Linked DNA regions of Homo sapiens: all the other regions are linked to region 1. Evidence: fine-mapped QTL for protein levels in blood plasma. A gene starts in region 1. Each other region holds a variant in brackets. All regions are shown on one strand. Distances are from middle to middle.

Region 1 (8,000 bases):
TCCCTTTGAAAGAGGCCTCCAGATAAGTCCAGGGTAATTAAAATTTCCTGTCTAACCTTGACTGCTCCACCAGCTCACGTTACAGCCACGGATACACGCTGTAGAGTCAGTTTCTTCTGGGCCTTCTCATTCTTTTAAAATCAGGCCACTATTCTCTTGGCTCAGGCTATCCAGTAACAGGCTTGGAAATGGAGAGGGAACTTTCTCTGGCCGGGCTGATGGTGCCTCTGGCTTCCCACACTCATTAGAAAACACTCTTTCTTCTACAACACACCATTTAGGAGCCAGCCTCATTTGTTAGGTCCTAAGGACTCACAAAGGACACCACTCCAAGCACCCAACAAACTCAGAGGCTGGGAAGGATCCAGTTTTTTTAAGCCTTGAAAATGTAAGAAATCCCTAAGCCAAATACTTTTAAATAGGAAAATCAAATTTAAACGATCAAAGCATGTCTCCCAGTATCTGTATGAATCTTTCTAGCCCCAAACAAAAAGACAGGGTGTACTTTGTACTGGTCTAATCAGGTTATATACTGCAAGGGGCCCAACGAACTAAGGCGACATCAGAACATGAATCTAGAAACTGCTTAAAAGTGAAATTCTTAAGCCAGGCGCGGTGGCTCACGCCTGTAATCCCAGCGTTTTGGGAGGCTGAGGCGGGTGGATCATTTGAGGTCAGGGGTTCAAGACCAGCCTGGCCAACATGGTGAAACCCCATCTCTACTAAAAATACAAAAATTACCTGGGCATGGTGGTGCGCGCCTGTAGTCCTAGCTACTCGGGAGGCTGAGGCAAGAGAATGGCATGAACCCAAGAGGTGGAGCTTGCAGCGAGCCAAGATCGCACCACTGCACTCCAGCCTGGGCAATGGAGTGAGACTCCATCTCAAAAAAAAAAAAAAAAAAGGAAGGCCATGTGAAGACACAGAAACACACACAGGGAGAGCACCAGGTGCTCAGGGTGGCAGAGATTACGGTGATGCGCCCATACCACAAGAAATACCAAGAATTCTGGCAACCACCAGAAGCCAGGAAACAGGCACAGAAGGAGTCTTCGCTGGCGCCTCAAGGGCAGCACAGCCCGGCTGACACGTTGGTTTCAGACTTGTCAGACTTCTGATTTCCAGAACTATGAGAGGATATACTTCTGTTGTTTTATGCTACCCACTTTGTGGCATTTCATTCAGGCAGCTCTAAGAAACAAACGACCTCACCCAGCAGCAGAGGAGCTAACGAGTTCCTTCCGCAGAACCCGGAAGGGCAAAGCACACAGTCCCACGGGGACCCGGAACTCACCAAGAGGCCAGGTCACCACTCCACAGCTCAAACTGTGGGCTAAATCAGGTTCAAAAGATAAAGTGGACTCAGCAAAGTGAATTATTAAACAAAAAAGGACAACACAAAATGTGTACTTTTTTTATTTTTTTGAGACGGAGTCGCACTCTGTTGCCCAGGCTAGAGTGCAATGGCGTGATCTCGGCTCACTGCAACCTCCACCTCCCAGGTTCAAGCGATTCTCCTGCCTCAGCCTCCTGAGTAGCTGGATTACAGGCGTGTGGCACCATGCCTGGCTAATTTTTGTATTTTTAGTAGAGACGGGGTTTCACCACGTTGATCAGGCTGGCCTCGAACTCCTGACCTCATGATCCGCCTGCCTCAGCCTCCCAAAGTGCTGCGATTACAGGTGTGAGCCACCACACCCAGCCAAATGTGCACATTTACCCAAATTATGGATATGTGATAATCTAAAAATTAGGGGCTAAAATCCACCTGGCCTTCACCATAGGCTGAAACATGGAGCTAAATGCATCACATACATGAATTAATTTAATCCCCACAATAACCCCACATGGCAGGTCCTGTGCTTTCCCATTTGACAGAAGGGAAAACTGATGGCACAGAGCTTTTAAATAAGCTGCCCAAGGAACCTTCCAGGGAGCAAGTGGTGGGGCTGGGGTTTGAACCCAGGAAGCCTGCCTCCAAGTGCTCACTCTTCACAGCCTCACAAGACTGCTGCTGCCATGAGTAAAATCTGGAAGGTAATCCAATAGAAAACAAATTGGTGTGTTACATTTTCTTTAGTGTTTTTAACATTCTTATGTTATTAATTTAAGCTGTTGTGGCCATACCACCACCACCAAGGATGAGCCATCTGAGAACGGGGACAACGCAGAGAGGAAGGTGGCTTAACAAAAAGAGAAACTAAGCACTGATGGCAGCACCTAAGCGCCTAGATCCAGCCACACCTGAAGCTAGTGATGGCTTTTTGGTTTCCTCAGCCAAATTATTCTCGTTTTGTTTATGCCAATTTTGGTTGCAAGTGACAGAAAACTCAACCTAGAAAGAAATACCAAGTACTGGTTGAACTGTTAGCTCTGCTGGGATCCCAGGCCACACACTGCCTTCCCCTTGGCTTTTTTTTTTTCCCCTTGAGACAGAATCTCCCTCTGTCACCCTGGCTGGAGTGCAATGGTGTGATCTCTGCTCACTGCAACCTTTGCCTCCCAGGTTCAAGCAATTCTCCCACCTCAGCCTCCCGAGTAGCTGGGACTACAGGCCCGCGCCACCACTCCCGGCTAATTCTTGGATTTTTAGTAGAGATGGGGTTTCACCATGTTGGCCAGGCTGGTCTTGAACTCCTGACCCCAGGTGATCCGCCTGCCTCGTCCTCCCAGAGTGCTGGGATTACAGCCGTAAGCCACTGTGCCCGGCTCCCCTTTGCGTGATCCTGGTCCAGTACCTGTTTGCTCACAGATGCCACCTTGCTTCGTCTCCCAAGACCCTCTGAGCATATGGACTCTTTTTATCACTCTTAGGTAGTCAACTACAAGTTGATCTTTCCAAAGATTGTTTTATAGGAAAAACAAAAGAAGCCTGAGTGGCCACAAGAAAACTTGAAGATAAAGGTCCCTCCCCAAGATCCCCTGAATCCAGCTGGACTGGGAGGAACTGGTGGGGTCTGGGAGCAGCCCGGCCAGGGCAGTCTTCCCATGAAAGGCATTACCCCAGAGAAATCAAAGGGCTCCAACAAACCTTGCCTCACCCATTGCTTTTCCATTTTCGCCCCAGCCGCATTCTTTAGCGCACTGGGCCTTCCTGAACTGCCCAAACTAGACCCAGAAAACGCCACAGATCAGTGCCTGGAAGCCAGACAAAGAAACCAGGGTGTCAGGGAGGCAGAGGAGGCGGAGGCTCCCAAGTGCCGGCTCTGCAAACCTCCATGCAGGGGCAGCGGAGGCTCAGGCGACGCAGCGCCAGTCACAGCGCCTTTAAATAGAACCTCCACGCGGAGGGCAAACACATTCCATGCGCTTTTAAAAACGCCCAAGCATGACCTGGCCGGCGGCCTCAGCTCCCCCAGGCATTTTTCCGGTCTCGGCTCAATTCTGGAAATATTAATAGCTCGGTTAAGAGCTTACCGGGTGCAAAATACTTTTCGGCCTTAAAAGGCAGGGACTGTTACTGCTCCCACTCTCCAGATGAGGAAACTGAGATCCCCGGAGGTTCCAGGCGACGAGGTGGACTAGTGGGTCTCTATCGCCTGCCTCTGGCTCAGTGTCTCCCCAGGTGAGCGGCTCCCCGCGCACTGGGGCTCACAGAGCAGGACCGCAACGAGCCCCCGCCGGACCGGTGCCAGCGGCCAAGTTCGGTTCCCACAACCGCCCCCCCTCCCCGCGCCCCCAGGAGGCTCCCGGGCCGCGCCTGCTCCAGGAAAGTCCTGAATCTCTTACAACGACTTTACCAAACTCCCCGTTCTCGGCCTCCGCTCATTCATCAGACCCCGCGCTGCAGCCAAGGATTAACTTTCCCCTTTTGTTTTAAAAGATAAAAGGCCAACAGGGGCTAATTTTTCCCTTGGGGGGATACAGTGAAAGCTGGCAGGTGAGGCGCGGCGACGGCTCCCTTTCCTAGAAGTTGCTTTCGGAGCAAATCTCCGGACTGGCGGGCGGAGGGGGCGGGACCAGTGGTCGGGGTTGGGGGACCTGGAACTCGGGCCCGGCAGCCGCCGAGAACTTTTGGGCTCCGTCCCGGAGAGCTCCTGCTCCTGGTGTCCCCCCTCTTCGGCCCCGTCCCCCACCGCGCCGAGATAGACCCGAGCACGCAAGATCTGGCTGCGTTGGGCCAAATGCTACCTGCACCCCGGGACCCCTCCCCACACAAACAGGGCCCGGGACTTCGGACCAGAAAGCCCTCCCGCTCCCTCCCTGGTCCCGGGGGCGAAGGGCGCGCAGCGGGAGCTCACAGTTTGAACATGCTCTCCAGGTCCTTGATGAGGCGGCGGCTGAACTCCGGGAACTCCGTGTAGGGGTTGAAGACCCTGCAGCGCCGGGGCCGCGCAGCGCCCTCGTTGATGTCCAGCCGCCGGCTCAGCTGGGCGCTCAGCTCCGCGTCGGCGCTGGCCGTGGGCGCACGGGCGGGAGGCTCGGGCTCGGGCTTGGGCTCCGGGGCTGGGGCGCCGAGGGGAGCCAGCTGGGGGCCACTCTCCTCGGCCTCCTCGCGCCGCAGCCGGCGCTCCAGCTTGCACGCCAGCTCCTCACTGGCCATGGCGGCGGATCGCAGGACGCGGGAACGCGGGGACGCGGGACGGGACGCAGGGAGCTGGCGGGCGGCGCGCTCCTCGCAGGCTCGAGGCTCTACAACACTCCGCCGAGGCGGCGGGGACCCGGCGGTTGGGAGGGTCTGAGGACGGACTGGCGGGCGGGGCGGTCGGGGCGGAGCTGCGGCTTTAAGGAGGCGCCAGGGCTCAGCGACTGCCAGCCTGGTGGGAGGAGGCCGCCGGTGTCTGGGTGTCTGCGCGTCCCGGAGACCCCGACCTGCTTCCTCTCCCCGCGGCTCCGGGCGGGAGGCTGACCGTCCCCCCGGGACCAGGCAGGGACCCTCGGATCAACTCCGACCTTGCTGCCCCTGTCAGCTCCGGGGAAAACCGTAGCGGGAAAAAGCGTCTCGACCGTTCAGACGGTGCCTTTCTTGTCCCCCAGAAGTAACCCGACTGGAAGCGCTCGCGGCCCGGGACAGGCTGGGTGGGGGAGGCGAGCGCCCCCGAGCGACACCCACGCGTCCCCCGCGTCTGGGAGTGGTGCCCACCCTCCCCGGGGTCAGGGAGTGGGAGGCGCCCGCCCGGAGCGTGGGGCGGGGGAGCTGCTTTTCAAACACTCATTGGAACGAAATGTTTCCAAAACATGCTAAAAATACTAAAAACAAATAAGCAAACAAAAAAGAGAGAGAGCAAACGAGCAGAAAAAACTCCCGTTTTCCCTAGAGGCAGGAAAGCAGCGTAGCTTCAGGGACTCGGGTTTTTTTGCGTGAAACGCACAAGAAAAGAGAAGAAACCTGGCGCGGAGACTCACATCCGCAATCCCAACACTTAGGTGTTGGTGGCAGGATCTTTTGAGCCCAGGAGTTCGAGACCAGACTGGGCAACATAGTTAGACTGTCTCTACAAAAACTTTTAAAAAATCAGCCAGGCATAGTGGCGCTCGTCTGTAGTCCCAGCTACTCAGGAGGCTGAAGTAGGAGGATGGCTTGAGCCCGGGAGGTCGAGGCTGCAACGAGCCATGGTCAGGCCACTGCACTCCAGCCTGGGCGACAGAGTGAGACCCTGGCTCTAAAAATAAACGAAGAAGAAGGAGGGAGAGGGGGAGGAAAAAAGAAAGGAAAGAAGGAAAAGAAGCTTGAAAATTAAATCAGCATTTTTAACAAGAGGGTAAAAACAAATACAGTCGTCATTCTCCCCAAGGAAGGCTGATGCCGCTGTTACATCAGCCAGGCGTTGAGAATCTTGTAAACACGGGTCTGTCCCCACTTGAGAACGACGCTGCTCTGACCCACCATGGGCTGATGACTGGGGCAGGTCAGTGACCCCGCTGGACTATGGTTGTCTGAGACCCAGGGACCAGCCTTTGGCATGCGAGTGCAGGGCATGCGGGGGACCTGGGTTAAAATGTTATTTTTAAAAAGTTATAAAGGAAAATACGTTTTTTAAAGAAAAGTATAAAAATCTTTAACATTCCTACTGAACAACTTGACTTGGTACAGAGAATACGGGTTTTACATATACAATGGCAACCCTGCAAATAGATCACGGGGCGCTACACTTCCTGACCTGGTGGTGGTGACTAGAAGGTTGGCTTTGTTGTCACATCTGTTTTGACCACTTTATGTGACACATTTCAGAGAAATAAGGTCAAAAATTTTGTGTAATTAAACTTTTTTTAATTTTATATTTTAAAAACTTTTTTTTTTTTTGAGATGGAGTTTCATTCTTGTTTCCCAGGCTGGAGTGCAATGGCATGATCTCGGCTCACTGCAGTCCCTGCCTCCTGGGTTCAAGTGATTCCCCTGCCTCAGCCTCCTGAGTAGCTGGGATTACAGGCGCCCACCACTGCACCTGGCTAATTTTTTGTATTTTTAGTAGAGACAGGGTTTCTCCATGTTGGCTAGGCTGGTTGTGAACTCCTAGCCTCAGACGATCCTCCCACCTCGGCCTCCCGAAGTGCTGGGATTACAGGCATGAGCCACCACACCCAGCTGGTTTTGTTTTTGTTTTTTTTTTTTTTTAATGTTCTTATTCCATCGAGCTCTCCTCAAGAAAGAAAAAGTTCAAAATTCTTAATAGTCTCCATCAACAAGAAACTCTGGGGCTGGGCGCGGTGGCTCACACCTGTAATCCCAGCACTTTGGGAGGCAGAGGCAGACGCATCACTTGAGCCCAGGAGTTTGAGACCAGCTTGGGCAACATGGCAAAACCTTGTGTACAAAAAAAGATAAAATAAAAAATAAAAATAAAATAAAAAACAACTAGCCAGGTGTGGTAGTATGCACCTGTAGTCCCAGCTATTTGGGATCACTTGGGCCCGGGAGGTGGAGGCTGCAGTGAGCCATGATCATGCCACTGCACTCTAGCCTGGGTGGTAGAGTAAGACCTGTCTGAGAGAGAGAGAGAGACAGAGAGAGAGAGAGAGAAAGAAAGAGAGAGAGAGAGAGAGAAACTTTGCATGAGTAGGTAATACAATTTTTTTTTTAAGACGGAGTTTTGCTCTTGTTGCCCAGGCTGAAGTGCAGTGGTGCGATCTCGGCTCACTGCAACCTCTGCCTCCCAGGTTCAAGCGATTCACCTGCCTCAGCCTCCCAAGTAGCTGGGATTACAGGCACCCACCACCAAGCCCAGCTAATATTTTATATTTTTAGTAGAGACGGGGTTTCACCATGTTGGCCAGGCTGGTTTTGAACTCCTGGCCCCAAGGAATCCACCTGTCTTGGCTTCCCAAAGTGCTAGGATTACAGGCATGAGCTACTGTGCCCGGCCAGTAATAGAATTTTTAAACCATTTTTTACATGCTGAAATTTACAACAGTTAGTGTTAAAAAAATCTAACAGCTCTTTTTATTTATGAATATAATGTTGAAAATTTTTTAAATTAAAAATGACTTTTTTTCTTTTCTTTCTTTCTTTTTTTTTTTTTTTTAATAGAGATGAGATCTCTCTATGTTGCCCAGGCAGGTCTTGAACTCCTGGGCTCAATTGATCCTATTTGCCTAGGCCTCCCAAAGTGCTGGGATTACAGGGGTGAGCCACGGTGCCCAGCCTTGAAAATTCTGAAATTAATGGGAGTGGATTGTGAACAAAATTTCACTTTTTCATTGAAGTGTTTCCAAATGAGGGAGTGCTTTTAGATAATGCGCTTGCATACTGTGAGCAGTCACCTGGTGCCTCTCAAAAGGCACATCATCTGCAAGGGGCAAAGATTGAGGGCTGTGTCCACCAGGCACCCAGCCTAGACAGAACGCCCTCTGAGCTATGTCCCGCCCCTGAGGGAAAATAGCACAGGCCCACAGTATTCACCAGGCAACACCTGGCCACCCCTCAGAATGAAGTGTTAGTATCTCACTAGTGACAATTCCAGGTGGTCACCGTTACGGCCACAGCCCAAAGCCTGTTCTCCTTCTCCTCTTTTCCGATGTCCAGTCGGGCACCTGACAAAGACTCAAACATGCTTGCTGGG
Region 2 (8,476 bases), 81 kb before region 1:
CCTCTTTATTTTAACTATTCATCTCCTCTTTGGGACCTCATCTATCACTTTGTGGGCCTCTGAGTACATTTTCACAGGAGAAGAAAGAAAAGAAATCAACCTAGGTCCTTCTTATTGTTGAGTTTACAATAAAGAAAAGACAGACTCTGACCTCTCCCTCTTAGCCTACCATTTTCTTACAGCCTGGAACAGCCTAGAGGAACCAAGCAACTTCTGAGCTCAGGAAATCACTTTCAAAAAAAAGGTGACAAATCTACGTAGTAAGTCCCATGTGGGTAAAATCAGCAAGGAGAAGCCAAAGTAGGTGCTGAGTCAGATTCCAGCACAGTGTCTGATACTTAACTTTGACAGTGTTCCCGAATACTGCTTTCCAGAAGTCTTGAAGACAGATTAGCTACCACCACTATTCCACTAAGAACTCAAAACATACACATCTTTGAAAACCCCCTGGATCTTTGTTATAAAAATTATGTGGCCGGCACGGTGGCTCTCACCTGTAATCCCATCTACTCGGGAGGCTGAGGCAGAAGAATTGCTCGAAGGCAGAGTTTGCAGTGAGCCGAGATCACGCCACTGTGCTCCAGCCTGGGCAACAAAGCGAGACTCCGTCTCAAAAAAAAAAAAAAGTGCTACTACAAATCTCTATTTCCTAGCTATGCAAAACTTACCCAGAAAAAATATGGCAAAATTTGGGATGGAGTCCAGCCAGTACTATGTATAGTCTGCCACAAAACTAACACAGAATGAATACCAAGGAACCTGAATCTGCCCCCATTCCCACTGCCTACCTACGTTTTTCCAAAAGCAGAAAAAAGACCAACTCCTCTAGCACTCTCCACATATACTAAACGAATCAGTAGTTCTGTCCCCACCACAGCAGCCAGCAATTTTTAGTTTAGCCAGATCTGGATTAAGATAACACAAGATTAATAACTTTATTAGTGCAAATTAGTTCAACTACTTCAAAAAGAATTGGCAATATCCATTAAATCTAAACTGTATGCCTACCCTGTGATCCCATAACAAACTGCTACACATACATCCAAGGAAACTGAAGTTATATTTCTACCAAAAGACAAGAGATTCATAGTAGCTTTATTTATAATTGTCAAAAACTGACATTTGGGTATTATGTCCATCAATGTAAATGTACATCAACAGGCAAACCAATCTGCAGTATACTCATATAATGAAATATTACTCAGCAGTTTAAAAAAAGGAACTAGTCAGGTGCGGTGGCTCATGCCTATAATCCCAGCACTGTGGGAGGCTAAGGTGAGTGGATCGCGTGAGGTCAGGAGTTCGAGACCAGCCTGACCAACAACGGTGAAACCCTGTCTCTACTTAAATTACAAAAATTAGCTGGGCATGGTGGTGGGCGCCTGTAATCCTAGCTACTTGGGAGGCTGAGACAGGAGAACAGCTTGAACCTGGGAGGTGGAGGTTGCAGTGAGGCTGCAGTGAGCCAAGATCTTGCCACTGCACTGCAGCTTGGCAACAGAGTGAGAATTCGTCTCAAAAAACAAACAACAACAACAAAAAAAATTACTGATATTCACAATGATACTGCGAAATCACCCAGATATCATGTTTAGAAAAACAAGCTGGCTAGAAAAAAATATATACTGTATGATTCCTTTTATGTGATGTTCAAGAAGAGTACTATGGTTTGGGTATATGACCCCTGCAAATCTCATGTTGAAATCTGATCACAGATGCTGGAGGTGAGGTCTAATGGGAGGTGTCTGGATTATGGGCAGATCCCTCATGAATGCCTTGGTGCCACTCTCACAGTAATGAGTGAGTCCTTACTTGATTTGTTCCCAAGAGAGCTAGTTGTTAAAAACAGCCTGACACCTCCCTCCTCTCTCTCTCTCTTGCTCCCCTCACCATGAGATCTACACACACTGGCTCCCCTTTGCTTTCCACTATGAGTGTAAGCAGCCTGAAGCCCTCACCAGAAGCAGATGTTTCTTGTACCGCCTACAGAACCATGAGCCAAATAAACCTCTTTTCTTTATAAATCACCCAGTCTCAGGTATTCCTTTATAGCAACACAAACAGACTAAGACAAATAGATAATAAATGGTGATAGATGTCAGGAAAGTACTCATCATGGGAAGAGGAGACTACTAAACAGGAAGGAGAGGGAATTGGAGTGCTGGAAAAGTTCACTATCATGATCTAAGTGGTGACTACAAAAGTACATATACATGTATATGTACATGTAAAAATGTATTGAACTATAAACTTCACATTTGTGCATGTATTTACCATATTTTACCTATCAATTATTATTATTGTTTCTTAGAGACAGTGTCTCAACACTGTTGCCCAGGCTAGAGTGCAGGGCTGTGCCCATAGCCCACTGTAACCTCAAACTCCTGGGTTCAAATGATCCTCTTGCCTCAGCCTCCCAAAGCACTGGGATTACAGGTATGAGCTACTATGCCCAGCTCCAGTTGTGTTAAATAAATCATAAATGCTTTAGCAATTACAAATACTTCAAGGCCAAGTATGGTGGCTCACGCCTGTAATCCCAGGACTTTGGGAAGCCGAGGCAGCTGGATTGCTTGAGCCCAGGAGTTTGAGACCAGCCTGGGCAACATGGCAAAACCCCATCACTACAAAAAAAAAAAAACAACAAAAATTAGCTAGGTGTGGTGGTGCTAGCCTGTGGTCCCAGCTACTGGGGAGGCTGAAGTTGGAGGATCACCTGAGCCCAGGAGGTTGAGGCAGCAGTGAGCTGTGATCATGACACTGCACTCCAGCCTGGGCTACAAAGTGAGACCCTGTATCAAAAAAAAAACTTCAGTGAGCATGAAACAAAGCTATTTAAACTATTTTAAATGAATGTCTTCCGATAACATATTAAATTCATTCCCTGCTTAAATTTTTGCGATTAGAAAAGAAAAAACAAAACAAAACAAAAAAAACACTGGCCAGGCGCAGTGGCTCATGCCTGTAATCCCAGCACTTTGGGAGGCCAAGGCGGCAGATCACATGAGGCCAGGAGTTCAAGACCAGCTGAGCCAACATGGTGAAACCCCATTACTACTAAAAATGCAAAAAGAAATTAGCCAGGTGTGGTGGCACATGCCTGCAATCCCAGCTAGTAGGGATGACTGAGGCATGAGGATTGCTTGAACGCGGGAGGTGGAAGTTGCAGTGAGCCGAGATCGTGCCACTACACTCCAGCCAGAGTGACAGAGTGAGACTCTGTCTCAAAAAAAAAAAAAAAAAAAAAACAAATAACACCATTATCTTGATAAAATAATCTTCAAATCTGTCAGCTCCTAAGACCATAAAGAGGCCTACATTCAAATGAAGCAAGACTCATTTACTAGGCTAAAAGAATGTAGATCTTCAAATGCTTTTTTTCAAATGTCAGAAAACAGCTAAGTAAGATGAAAAGGAAAAGTCCAAACATGAGGGGGACCCACATTACTTATAATAGTAAAAGACTGGAAGCAATCTTGTAAAAGTGGCACATTCACTCAACAAAAGAC[A/T]GCTATAGTAACATCTGCACACAGTATAGTTATACATATGTCCAAAAAAAGGCAAAAAGAACACAAGACAAAGGAATATTAGTGAGGTGAAATTAATGATTTGTCCTCTACTCTCATAACTTGCAATATTCTTTAATTACTTTATAACAAAATGTATTTTAATTATCACAAAAAGCATAGGCCTGGCCTGTTGAAATACTTTTACAGTCCCAACATAAATGTCATAAAAGTTATCACTCATTTCAACTTTAACTTGGTTTAAGACGAATTTTAAGGTTAAAAAAAAAAAAAAAGGAAATTCTTCTCCCATCTATTATAACAGAAAACACCTTTTCCTTCGGCATCCACCTCATCTGGCAATACTAAATCTCTTCACTAATAAATACACCAACATTTTTGAGTAACTTTTAAAATATGATCTGTTAACACATTTACTGATGACAAAACTTCATGAAGCAAACTTAGGCTTCAATATTCACTTTATTACTAAACATTTTACCTAAGGAATTAACAAAGAACTTTTTTTTTTTTTTCCCAGAAAGCCAACAAAAGTCCAAGGAATTGTCTACATCTACCTGGCCCGTACACTATACATGAAACCTTGCAAAACATTATTTCTATGTGAATTATTCTTTCTATGGCATGTCTTCAAAAAAATTACAGATACTGCTTATCTGTAATTACAATTACTGCTGGCTTTTCTCCTTCCTAACAGGAATTTAAATTTCTAATTTACAGTATTGTGATAAACACTGCAACCCAATACAATTCTGAATCATTACCTATGCCATGAAATTAAGGTCAGCTTTACGTCTAATAGCCCAAAACTGAGGACAATCCAAATGTTCATAAATAATGTTATGAACAAATACTGTAAAGTCATACCTTGGAAAATTCTTGGCATTAAAAAACAAACTATTTGCATGCAGCAATACGGATGAATCACAGATAATTATGTTAAGCAAAAGATACCAGACCCTGCAGCCATAAAAAAGAAAAAGATCATGTCCTTTGCAGGAACATGGATGGAACTGAAGACCATTATCCTTAGCAAACCAATGCAGGAACAGAAAACCAAATACCGCATGTTCTCACTTAAAAGTGGCAGCTAAATAATAAGAACACATGGACACACAGGGAAACCACACACACTGAGGCCTCTCAGAGGGTGGAGGGTGGAGAGTGGGAGAAGGGAGAGGATCGGGAAAAATAACTAATGGGTACTAATCTATACCACAAACCCCCATGACACACATTTACCTATGTAACAAATCTGCACATGTACCCCTGAACATAAAAGTATTAAAATAGGAAAAAAAAAAAGATGCCAGACCTAAATATGATTTCCATTTACATGAATTTCTAGAAGACGCAAATATTAATCAATAAGTCACAGAAAACAGAACAGTGGTGGAGGAGGAAAAATGACTACAAAACAGCTGGGGGAAACTTCTGGGGATAATGAAAATGTTACATATCTTGATTACAGTAACAGTTACATCAGTGTGTGCATTTCTGAAAACTCATCAAAATGTACACTTAATGAGTATACTTAAAATAAAGGTATTTTATTGTATGTAAATTTTACCTCAGAAAAGTTCTTTTTTAAAAAGACTAAACTTACTAAAAGTAAATAGACTGCACCCCCCAAAAAAGCAATGTATTCCAAGACTAAGCTTTAATATTTTTTATGTTAAATTACCTTCTTTAAAGGTATTAAAACAGATGTTAAAGTTTTAGCTAAAACTTAAAACTGAAGAACATTATCTACAAATGTACTGTTGACACAGCACCCATTAGCCACATACATGTGGCTATGTAAAGTTAAATTAAGATTAACCAAAATTTTAAAATCAGTTCCTCGGTCCGGCATGGTGGCTCACGCCTGTAATCCCAGCACTTTGGGAGGCCGAGACGGGCGGATCACGAGGTCAGGAGATCGAAACCATCCTGGCTAACATGGTGAAACCCTGTCTCTACTAAAAAATACAAAAAAATTAGCCATGCATGGTGGTGGGTGCCTGTAGTCCCAGCTACTCTGGAGGCTGAGGCAGGAGAATGGCATGAACCCGGGAAGCGTAGCTTGCAGTGAGCCGAGATCGCACCACTACACTCCAGCCTGGGTGACAGAGCGAGACTCCGTCTCAAAAAAAAAAAAAGAGAAAAAAAAAAAATCAGTTCCTCAAGGGCACCAGGGGGAATAACTAACTTCACAGTGGACAAACCTAGCAAAGTATGAAGGTCAACATCAAGGATGATAAATCATGCTGACATATATACTCTTAATATGATGAAAATGACACTTTGTCATCTTCCTCTAAAAATCCATAACCCCAGTCTAATCATGAAAAACATCAAATTCTAAAAGAGAGTCATTCTACAAAATAACTAGTACTCCTCAAACTTGTCAAGGTCATCAAAAACAAGGAAAGACAAGAGAAACTGTCATAGCTAAAGAAGCCTAAGGATGCATGACTAGGTATAACATGGTATCCTGGATGGAATTCTGAAACAGAAAAAGACACTAGGTACAATTAAGGAAATGTAAATAAATGAGGGACTTTAATTAATGACAATGTATCAACATTGGTTTATTAATTATAACAATGTACCATAGTAATGTAAGATGTTAATAACTGGAATTCCGCACTATCTTCTCAATTTTCTGTAAATCTACAATTGTTGTAAAAACTAAAGCCTATTATTAAAGAAAAAAAGTTAAAATTTAGAAGTTAAGGCTGGGCCCAGTGGCTCATGCCTGTAATCCCAGCACTTTGGGAGGCCAAAGTCAGCCGATCACTTGAGGTCAGGAGTTCAAGACCAGCTTGGCCAACATGGTGAAACCCTGTCTCTGCCAAAAAATACAAAAAATCAGTTGCACATGATGGCGGGTGCTTGTAATCCCAGCTATTCGGGAGGCTGAGGCTGGAGAATAGCTTGAACCCAAGAGGCGGTGGTTACAGTGAGCAGAGATCATGCCACTGCACTCCAGCCTGTGAAACAGAACAAGACTCCACTTCAAAAAAAAAAAAAGAAGTTTTTTCTACACTTTTTAAAAATGCAGTTCCTCAGTCACACCAGCTAGTAGCATCTCAAGCGCTCAACAGACACAACTGGCTAGTAGTTATAGTACTGGATGGTGGAGGTTCATAGAACATTTTCTTCATAGCAGAAAATTATAACTCATCCTAACTTATAAACAAACTCTTATCTACTTAGCACTAAAAACTCAGTAATATCTAAAAACCTTCAGTGATATGTTTATTCCAATTTCAAACACTTATGTTTTTAAATCGTTTTTTAAAAAATCAATGTAACATACATAAATGTAACATTGAAACGTGTTCCACTCCTCAAAGCAGCAGTTTACAAAGTACAATCTATGGACCTCCAAACTCTTTCAGGGCATCCATGATGTGTTTTTTTAATAATACTATTATAAAATACTATTGTGATCTCATTTGCTAGTTTGAGAATCTTCTATTGCAAAAACCAAAATATTATTTGCATTTTTCAATGTGTTGACACTTGCACAGACTGTGCAGTGATGGGGAAAACTGCTGGCACTATAGCATGACTGAAGTTAATTGCAACAAACTGTACCAGCAGTCACTATATTCTTCACTGCCATGTGGCATGTACTCATAAGAGAGAGGGGGGAAAAGCCACTTTTATTACGAATGCCCATGACGAGGGAATAAAAACTATTAATTGTATTAATCTTGATCCCTAGGAATACATCTTTTTAATATTCTACATGATGAAATGGGAAATATGCATTTCTACTGCATACAAAGTCATGTAGAAGGATACTTAATGCAATTGTTTTGGGTTACAAGCTCAACTAGCTGCTTTTTTTCACGGAACATAATTTTGACTTGAAAGAATAGCTGCACACAATATGGGTGTCCAGACTAGGATATGTAGCAGACTTTTTTTTTCAAAATGAATGAGACTTCAACAAAAACAATTCAGAGTACCTGTTGCCAATTATAAAATTTGACCTTTCAAGCAAAAATTGGAATTTTGGAAAGTTTCTATTCGTCACCATGAGTTAGAAAGTTTTCCAATATTTAAAGGCTTTTCTGATAAGTGCTGATTTCAATGAAAGTGATTTTTTGATACTGTATAATGTAAGATATCCATTCAACATCGAAGATAGACAAATGGATTTTATATTTACAGAAGACAAACTATTGATATAACTCGGATTTCATATTGCAACTAACCTTTAAAAAAAAAAACTACCTGGTGATGCAGTGTTAAAGTAAAGCGATAAAAATTAAAAATACAAAAAAAGAAAAAAAACACTGCTGGTTGAATTTTAGTGTAATATCAAAGAATATCTGCAATTATCTGTAAAAGCTATTGAAATTCTATTACAACTATATATATATATATATATATACATCATTGTGAGGATAATTTTCCTTCATATACTTCAACCAAAGTAATAAATAGCAACAGACTGAATGCAGAAGCAAATATAACCCAGTTGCCTTCTATAAAGCAAGACATAAAAGAAATCTGTAAAAAGGTAAAACAATGCCAATTTTATCAACAAATTTTTAGAAATGTTTTAGAAAATAGGTATGTCATATTAAAAATATATTTATGTTAGCATGTAATGAGTTTGTTATTTTTAAATAAACTAATACCTTTTAGATTTCTTGATATGATAGATACAACTAAAAAACCAAAAGCTCTTTGGGGCCCTCAATAACTTTTAAGAGGGTAAAGAGATCCTAAGATCAAAAAGTTGATTAACATCTACCTCAGAGAAAGAAGAAAAAATGACAAAGCCTGGGCAACATGGTGAAACCCTATCTCTATAAAAAAATACAAAAAAAAAAAAAAAAGATTAGCCAGGCATGGTGGCACGCCTGGAGTCCCAGCTACTCAGGAGGTACAGGTGGGAGGATAGGCAGAGGTTTCAGGGAGCCAAGACTACACCACCACACTTGAGT
Region 3 (8,000 bases), 38 kb before region 1:
TGGTCTATGTTGTGAGGTGCCCAGAAGCACCCACTTCCTGCCTTATTTCTTGCTATGAGGCCTGCAACATGGCCCAGGGGCCTAAGGGAGACTGACTCCACCCCCGGCTCCAGGAGAGCCCAGCTGAGATAATGATATTCCAGCGTTTTCCAATGGCAGGTTCAGAATTGGGCATGTGTGGAAGAAATTACTCCATGACCCTCAACACATAGGATCCTCATCTTCCCTAGTGGCATAATTACAGCCGGGCAGACAGATCCCGGAAAAAAAGACATTCCCTAACCTCCCATGCAGCCAGGAGTCACCAGGTTCGGTCAAACAGGATGTGATCAGAAACTATTTGCAACCAACATGATGGCCTTCAAATGAAAGGGCACGCCTTTCCCGTGCCTGAAGTCACCTCACACTTGAAACCAAACCCAGTTCATAACTTTTCCTCCTCAAACCACAGCCATTCTGGGAATAGGGGGAGGCCAGGCTTTTTTTTTTCCTTTGAGACATGGTCTTGCTCTGTCGCCCAGGCTGGAGTGCAATGGCCTGATCTCGGCTCACTGCAACCTCTGCCTCTGGGTTCAAGCGATTCTCATGCCTCAGCCTCCTGAGTAGCTGGGATTACAGGCGCATGCCACCATGCCCGGCTAATTTTTGTATTTTTAGTAGAGATGGGGTTTCACCATGTTGGCCAGGCTGGTCTCAAACTCCTAACCTCAAGTAATCCTCCCACCTCACCCTCCTAAAGTGCTGCGATTACAGATGTGAGCCACCGCAATTGGCCTGGGAGGCTGGTCTTGATGAAAAATATCATCAACTCCCCTCCTTACAAACCTCATGGCACTTATCTCCCTCCTCCAATGGAGTGATGAACACTGAGACTTCCAGAGAATTCTCAATTTGTCTCCTCCTCCTCTCTAGTCTGGTTGTCCCTACCCTTATTGGACCCACAATTCTTCTCAGGACATCTGTGAAAACTTCCCTGAGTCTAAACTGTCCCCAGGCAAGTGTGTCCTGGTAGTGCCCACCCCGATCACGTCAAGGCCCTGCTCAAACACTCAACGGCTCCCCTGCACCTGCGGCTGTGCATCGGAATCATGTCACAGCTCCATCGACTACACGTTTCCTGAAACCCACCTTGGAGAAATCCCAGGTGGATGTGGGTGGGCCTGGGAAGCCGGTGTGCAGGTGGTTCTAACACTCAGCAGTCGGGGGAAGGCCTGACCTTCCCAACCAGGTGCCCAGAGAGGAACTCCTCTCAGCCTCAGGGAGGCTGGAGCTCTCTGTCCAATAGCGTCTAGTGTAGCTGGGAGCCATCCTATCTCAGAGTCATAGACCACATGTGCCATGGTGTGCCAAAGGGTGGCAAGTGCTGGCCCAGTTTCCTGATCACCATATTCTTTCTTTCTTTTCTTTTCTTTTCTTTTCTTTCTTTTCTTTCTCTCTTTCTTTCTCCTTCCTTCCTTCCTTCCTTTCTTTTCTCTCTCTCTTTTTTTTCTTTTGAGGTGGAGTCGTGCTCTGTCACCCAGGCTGGAGTGCAGTGACACGATCTCGGCTCACTGCAGCCTCCGCCTCCCGGGTTCAAGCAATTCTCCTGCCTCAGCTTTCCAAGTAGCTGGGATTACAGGTGTGCACCACCACACCCAGCTAATTTTTGTATTTTTAGTGGAGATGGGTTTCACCATGTTGGCCAGGCTGGGGTCACCATATTTGCATCTTGGCTTTCACCTCCGGCCATGTCACCAGCCCTGCTCCCTCACACATCCTGTATCCTCACATTGGGACGCCTCTCCAGCCTCCAAACACGTCTCACCCTCTATGCCTTGGAGCCTTCCACTTGGTGTTCCCACGATCACAACGCCCTCCCTTCCTTGATTACAAGGTGAATCCCCATTCATCTTGGAACATCTGTCACAAATGGCGGCTCCTTTATGGCCCTCTCCCAAATCCAGTGACGATGCCCTCCATTTGTCATCCATGCAAATGTTTATTGAGGGCCATTATATACCAAGCACTGTAATTACAAAGATATCATACCTACTCTGCCTTTGATTCTGGGTGAGGAGGCAGACCTATAAACATAACGAGCTGTAAGAATTTTTATTGTCATTCTTTTCATCTTTTCTCCAGTTATAAAAATAATGCACACTCATTGTAAAACATTACAAAAATATAAAATAAGTCCCTCTGACAAAACTATTACTGATACTTTGGCATATAATGATCCAGGTTGGATTTCATGTTTACAAAATTAGGTTTCCAGCATATTGTCTTGCTTCATTTATTCTGGACATCTGTCCACACGGACACGCAGCTGCATCTCATTTTTTGACAGCTGCAGAGTGTGCAAATGTGTGGGTATATCACAATGAACTCACTTCCCTGATAATGGAAGTTTTGGTTATTTCTAATTTTTCTCTATCACTAACACTATTGTATGAAAATCCTTGTCCATACATGTATGTGCATTTGCATGGGTGCGGTGGCTCACGCCTGTTATCCCAGCATTTTGGGAGGTGGAGGCAGGCAGATCACGAGGTCAGGAGTTTGACACCAGCATGGCCAATATCGTGAAACCCTGTCTCTACTAAAAATACAAAAATTAGCTGGGCGTGGTGGTGGGCGCCTGTAGGCCCAGCTACTCAGGATGCTAAGGCAGGAGAATTGCTTGAACCTGGGAGGCAGAGGTGCCAGTGAGCCAAGATCGTGCCACTGTACTGCAGCCTGGGAGACAGAGTGAGACTCAATCTCAAAAAAAAAAAAAAAAAAAGAAGAAGTCTTAAGAGGTAGAATTCTGGAAGGGAAAAATATAAAATGTGCATAGTTAGTTTCAAACTGCTTTACAAAAAGTTGGGTCAAAGTTGCAGTGAGCCAAGATTCTGCCACTGCACTCCAGCCTGGGTGGCAGAGCGACACTCCATCTCAAAAAATAAAATAAAATAAAAAGCTGGGTTAATTTATACTTTTACCAAAAGCATGTAAGGGTGCCTTGAAACGATAAATTATAACACCACTTCCATGTGTACTAGAGGCACACAGAAGAGGATGGACAGTCAGGGAAAGCAGCCCAGGGGAGGGAACTCTTCAATGTGGGTCTGGATGAAGCAGAGTTTTCTAGGCAGAGGCATTTGGGTAGGGCGTTCAGGCAGAGGGGACAGGAGATCCAGTTGGGAAAGGCGTGGCAGCATTTGCAGGGGGTGGATGAGGCTGAAGCAGGGATCAGAGCCAGATCATAACAGGTCTTGAATACCCAGATAAGACATTCCCAGACACTCAAACCTACTTCAACTAGAGCACGTATCACCTTGCACTGGAGCAGTGGAGTGAAAACTGTCCTGCTAAGCTCGGGCTCTCAACCCTAGCACCTCTCCCAAAGCATCATAAGACATCTGCATGTTATATACTCAATGGATGGAGAAGACCCATCCCTGCAAAATAGCCCTTCCCTCCTCTCTACCCTCTCTGTGTCATTGTGGCACTTGCTTTCTTCACTGGACTATGTGTGTGCCCTGGGAAGGGCAACAGTTATGACCACTTCGCCTTTAGAAAGGAGTTGTATCTTAGAGCTCAATGCGGTGCCCAGCTTTGCTGGAGATGGGCTGAATCAATGTTAAGTCAGGAAGGAAGGACCAAACCACTTTCATTATTGGACACATGGTGCCAGTGTTTAAGGCGCAATGAGTGGTTGGCTTGTCCCTGACACTGTCAGATGAGAGCACTGGGCTTTCAGCATGGCAGAGAGATGATGAAATCTGTCTCCAAGCAGCCTCAAAGAGAAGTAAGAATTTAGAGTCCTGCTTAGGGGACTGGGCAGGCCAGGATATGTCACCAAGGCACTCTGTCTCTGGGCAAGCTTCCAGAATAAACTAAAACAAAACTCCACAAGAGTCCCAACAGCCCATACCACCTATGAAGGGCTCACAGTGAGCCAGGCACTTCCTAAATGCTTTCATGTACATGAACTCATTTAATCATTCAGGCAATTCTATTGTCACCCCTCCATCATACAGATGAAGACACCGAGGCTCAGAGTGGACAGGGTAGGGAGATGGAGGAGGCAGAGTCTGAACTCAGGTGGACTGGCACCCACTTGCTGGTTGGCAGAGCACTGGGAGGACCCTCCTGGTCTGTTTCTGCAGGTGTGCTCTGCTGAGATGAAAATGACAGCTGCAGTCTGGTGGGCAGCGTGAAGGCTGGGAGTGGTTGCTCCTCACAGAAGGAACTAAGCACCTACCTTGGCTTCAAAGAAGTTCTTGGCACCT[T/C]TGACACCCTCCAGGGCCACATCGATCTCAGAAAGCTTTGCCAGCGCCATCAGCCCACTGTCCTCCTGCAGCTCCCCTGCCGCGGCCTTGTGGAAAATGAGCAGGAACTACAGGGGAAAGAAAGTAGGGAACCAGAGTCAGTCTCACTGACAGATTCATAACCAGCCCTCTGGTCCAAGCTGAAGTCACTCTGCCAATCACTTAAGAAAGATGTTTATGTATGCATGTGGCAAATTACTTTTTTCCCTCATCAGATTGTCAAAAATGAAAACATGCCGATTTTTCCCAAGGCTATAGGGAAATGGGCACCTTCATATTTATTTGAGAGTGTAAACCGATTCAAACTTTTTTTTTTTTTTTGAGGCAGAGTCTCGCTCTGTTGCCCAGGCTGGAGTGCAATGGCATGATCTCGGCTCACTGCAACCTCTGCCTCTGGGCTCAAGCGATTCTCATGTCTCAGCCTCCCGAGTAGCTGGGATTACAGGTGTGTGCCACCATGCGCGGCTAATTTTTATATTTTTAGTAGGGATGGGGTTTTGCCATGTTGGCCAGGTTGGTCTCAAACTCCTGACCTCAAGTGATCTGTCCGCCTCGGCCTCCCAAAGTGCTGGGATTACAGGCGTGAGCCACTGCCTCCCACCCTCAAACTTTTATTTATTTATTTTCTTTTTTATTTATTTAATTTTTTGAGATGGAGTTTCACTCTTGTTGCCCAGGCTGGAGTGCAGTGGTGCGATCTCGGCTCACTGCAACCTCTGCCTCCCAGGTTCAAGCGATTCTCCTGCCTCAGCCTCTCGAGTAGCTGGGATTACAGGGATGCACCATCATGCCTCGCTAATTTTTTTGTATTTTAGTAGAGACGGGGTTTCTCCATGTTGGTCAGGCTGGTCTCAAACTTCTGACCTCAGGTAATCCGCCCGCCTCGGCCTCCCAAAGTGCTGGGATTACAGGTGTGAGCCACTGCACCCAGCCTATTTATTTATTTTCTTGAGACAGGGTCTCGCTCTGGAGTGCTGTGGTGTGTTCATAGCTCACTGCAACCTTGACCTCCTGGGCTCAGGTGGTCCTATGCCCTCTGATTCCTGAGTAGCTGGGACCACAGGCGTGTGCCACCACACCTGGCTAATTTTTTTTTTTTTTAATTTGTAGAGACAGGGTCTTCTACGTTGCCCAGGCTGGTCTCAAACTCCTGGTCTCAAGTGATCCTCCTGCCTCAGTCTCCTAAAGTGCTGAAATTACAGGTGTGAGGCACTGTGCCTGGCCTTGATGGGCACTTTGGAAATGTTTACTGAAAATAAGATGCTTTTTGCCTTCCAACCATTAATTCCACTGGTGGGAATTTATCCTTCAGAAACATTCCTACAATGGTTTAAACATTATCTATGAAAGTAAAAAATTAGCAGCATCCTAGTTTACAGTGATGAAAGAAAAATCAAATAAACCTGTATATACTATTTTTTAAAAACTAAATAATATTTCCAATGGTTTTTTAACAACTTGTACTTTTCTTGTGTGTCTCATTTTTGCATTAGATTGTTTGCCTTTCTTACCATTTGCTAAAGATCTTCATAGAACCTGGTATGTTTCAAATATTTTAGCTCTATCACTTGCCTTTTAAGTATGTTTATGCTAATTTTCAACTTTCAAAAATTTTACATATAGTGTTATGCTTAGAAAAACCTTCCTCAGCACCAAGGTTATATAAACAACCACCTATGTTTTGTCTACAACTTTTATGGCTTCTTTTTTTTTTTAACCATGTAAATATTTAATCTCTGAAATTTATTTTTATTTATCATGTGAGGTTAATCATTAACCTTATTTTCTTCCAAATGGTTGGTTAGTAATCCTTGCATCATTTGTTGAATAATCCACCCTCCTCCTCCAGATTCAAAATGTGACCTGAATTAATTAATCTTCAGGCTTCCAAAGAACAAACTTTTAAATAAATAAATTGGCCAACCTTTTTTTTTTTGAGATGCAGTCTTGCTCTGTTGCTCAGGCTGGAGTGCAATGGCTCGATCTCGGCTCACTGCAACCTCTGCCTCCCGGGTTCAAGTGATCCTCCCGCCTCAGCCTCCCAAGTAGCTTGGATTACAGGAGCGTGACATCACACCTGGTTAATTTTTGTATTTTTAGTAGAAATGGGGTTTCACCATGTTGACCAAGCTGGTCTTGAACTCCTAGCCTCAGGCCTCCCAAAGTGCTGGGATTGCAGGCATGAGCCACCATGCCCAGCTATAAATTGGCCAAACTTAAATGGCAATTTCCCCATCTTCCTGTCCTCTCCCAAGGCAATTTTGTGGCTTTTTTAGTTCTCTTCTTTAAACAACTGCTATCTAAGCTTCATGACTTATTTTTCCATATGGAAAGAATATAAACTGATACGTTCCAAGCTATCATCGAAAGAGGCTCTCTCCAGGTTTTCAGGTGCTACCTAAAATGTATGCACCCACAGGAAAATTGCAGGTTTCCAGGTCTTTTTTCATAACCCTCTTCCCTAAAAGAATGCCTTCTCGCCAGGTGCAGTGGCTCACGCCTGTAATCCCAGCACTTTGGGAGGCCAAGGCAGGTGGATCACGAGGTCAGGAGTTCGAGACCAGCCTGACCAACATGGTGAAACCCCGTCTCCACTAAAAATACAAAGATTAGCCGGGCGTGGTGGTGCCTGCCTATAATCCCAGCTACTCAGGAGCCTGAAGCAGGAGAATCGCTTGAACCCAGGAGGTGGAGGTTGCAGTGAGCCGAGGTCGTACCATTGCACTCCAGCCTGGGCTACAGAGCAAGACTCTGTCTAAAAAAAAAAAAAAAAAGCCTTCTCAAAAGGGAAAAGAACACTACTTAAAGTAGAGTGATAGGTTAAGCAACTTCTACAGGCCTTCCAAATCCTCACTTGAGTATCATTACTGCCGAGGCTCTCAATCCCCAGAGGGAAGTGTGTTTCATGCCGGTGAGAGGCTCAACCACCGCATCCCCGAAATGCCTTGTAAGACACCCTCTTCCTATTGCTCCCTTCAGGGTCCTAACGCTACCGTGGATATTGTCAAATACAAAGCAAGAGACACAGCAAGATGCCCACGGAGAGGCCGACGGTCAGCCATGTTCAACCACCTGCAGCTTCAAACTCTCTCACTAGAGGCCGGCAGAGACTCAGTTTGCTGTGGATTATCAGAACCTGAACATTGACTTGAAAGAAGACAGGCCCCTTGGAGGAGGCCAGGCCCCCCAAGAATAGGTTGGAGGTCAAGGGGATGGTGACACAGGGGTGGAAAAGATCGAAGCAGCAGACTTCAGGGCTGCGGATGAGAGGCATGTGGAGAGAGGGACTGACATACTGGTCGCTCCGTGCCCTGCTATCCTTAAATCATTTCCTTCACAGAAGGCCCCACCTCCTTGCTCCACGAGGCAAAGAGAACAGGCAGCCCCACCAGGCCAGTGCTCTCTGGGACCCAGACAGGCAGCTGTGAAAAGATGGGAGCACTGGCTGGGCGTGGTGGCTCACACCTGTAATCTCAGCATTTTGGGAGGCTGAGTCGAGCGGATCACCTGAGGTCCGGAGTTCGAGACCAGCATGACCAACATGGTGAAACCCCATCTCTACTAAAAATACCAAAATTAGCCGGGCATGGTGGTACACAACTGTAATCCCAGCTACTCGGGAGGCTGAGGCACGAGAATCGCTTGAATCTGAGGGGTGGAGGTTGCAGTGAGCCGAGATCGCGCCATTGCACTCCAGCCTGGGTGACA

Alleles and levels. Positions count from the first base shown, and alleles are read on the strand shown. Strength reflects both the effect of a copy and how common the allele is.
For the plasma level of the protein whose gene starts at base 4,644 in region 1, T is the high allele of the variant in region 2 and A is the other (weak association).
In carriers of allele T in region 3, the plasma level of the protein whose gene starts at base 4,644 in region 1 tends to be lower than with C alone (moderate association).

Evidence for each region. A credible set is the group of variants that fine-mapping cannot tell apart. PIP is the posterior inclusion probability: the model's chance that the variant is causal. Protein levels are from antibody-based Olink assays in UK Biobank. Linkage for the fine-mapping came from a reference panel and not from the study's own genotypes, which makes the PIPs less certain.
Region 2: its variant is the best candidate, but not a certain one, in a credible set for the plasma level of the EFHD1 protein (UK Biobank, PIP 0.68).
Region 3: its variant is the best candidate, but not a certain one, in a credible set for the plasma level of the EFHD1 protein (UK Biobank, PIP 0.54). The variant lies in the coding sequence of EFHD1. If it changes the protein, the assay may bind it differently, which can mimic a change of level.

Annotation. Positions count from the first base shown.
Region 1 is chr2:232,630,248-232,638,247 of GRCh38, reverse strand. It overlaps EFHD1 (EF-hand domain family member D1), which reads right to left and starts at 4,644. Exons shown (of 4, transcript NM_025202.4): 1 at 4,242-4,644. The coding sequence starts at 4,543. RefSeq lists silencers at 4,175-4,469, 4,547-4,606.
Region 2 is chr2:232,711,147-232,719,622 of GRCh38, reverse strand. All of the region lies in intron 2 of GIGYF2 (GRB10 interacting GYF protein 2), which reads right to left. Among named protein-coding and RNA genes, the nearest start is that of GIGYF2, 18 kb to the right of the region's middle. The variant A/T (reference allele first, on the strand shown) is at 3,510.
Region 3 is chr2:232,668,669-232,676,668 of GRCh38, reverse strand. EFHD1 (EF-hand domain family member D1) reads right to left here. Exons shown (of 4, transcript NM_025202.4): 3 at 4,226-4,360. Among named protein-coding and RNA genes, the nearest start is that of GIGYF2, 25 kb to the left of the region's middle. The variant T/C (reference allele first, on the strand shown) is at 4,254.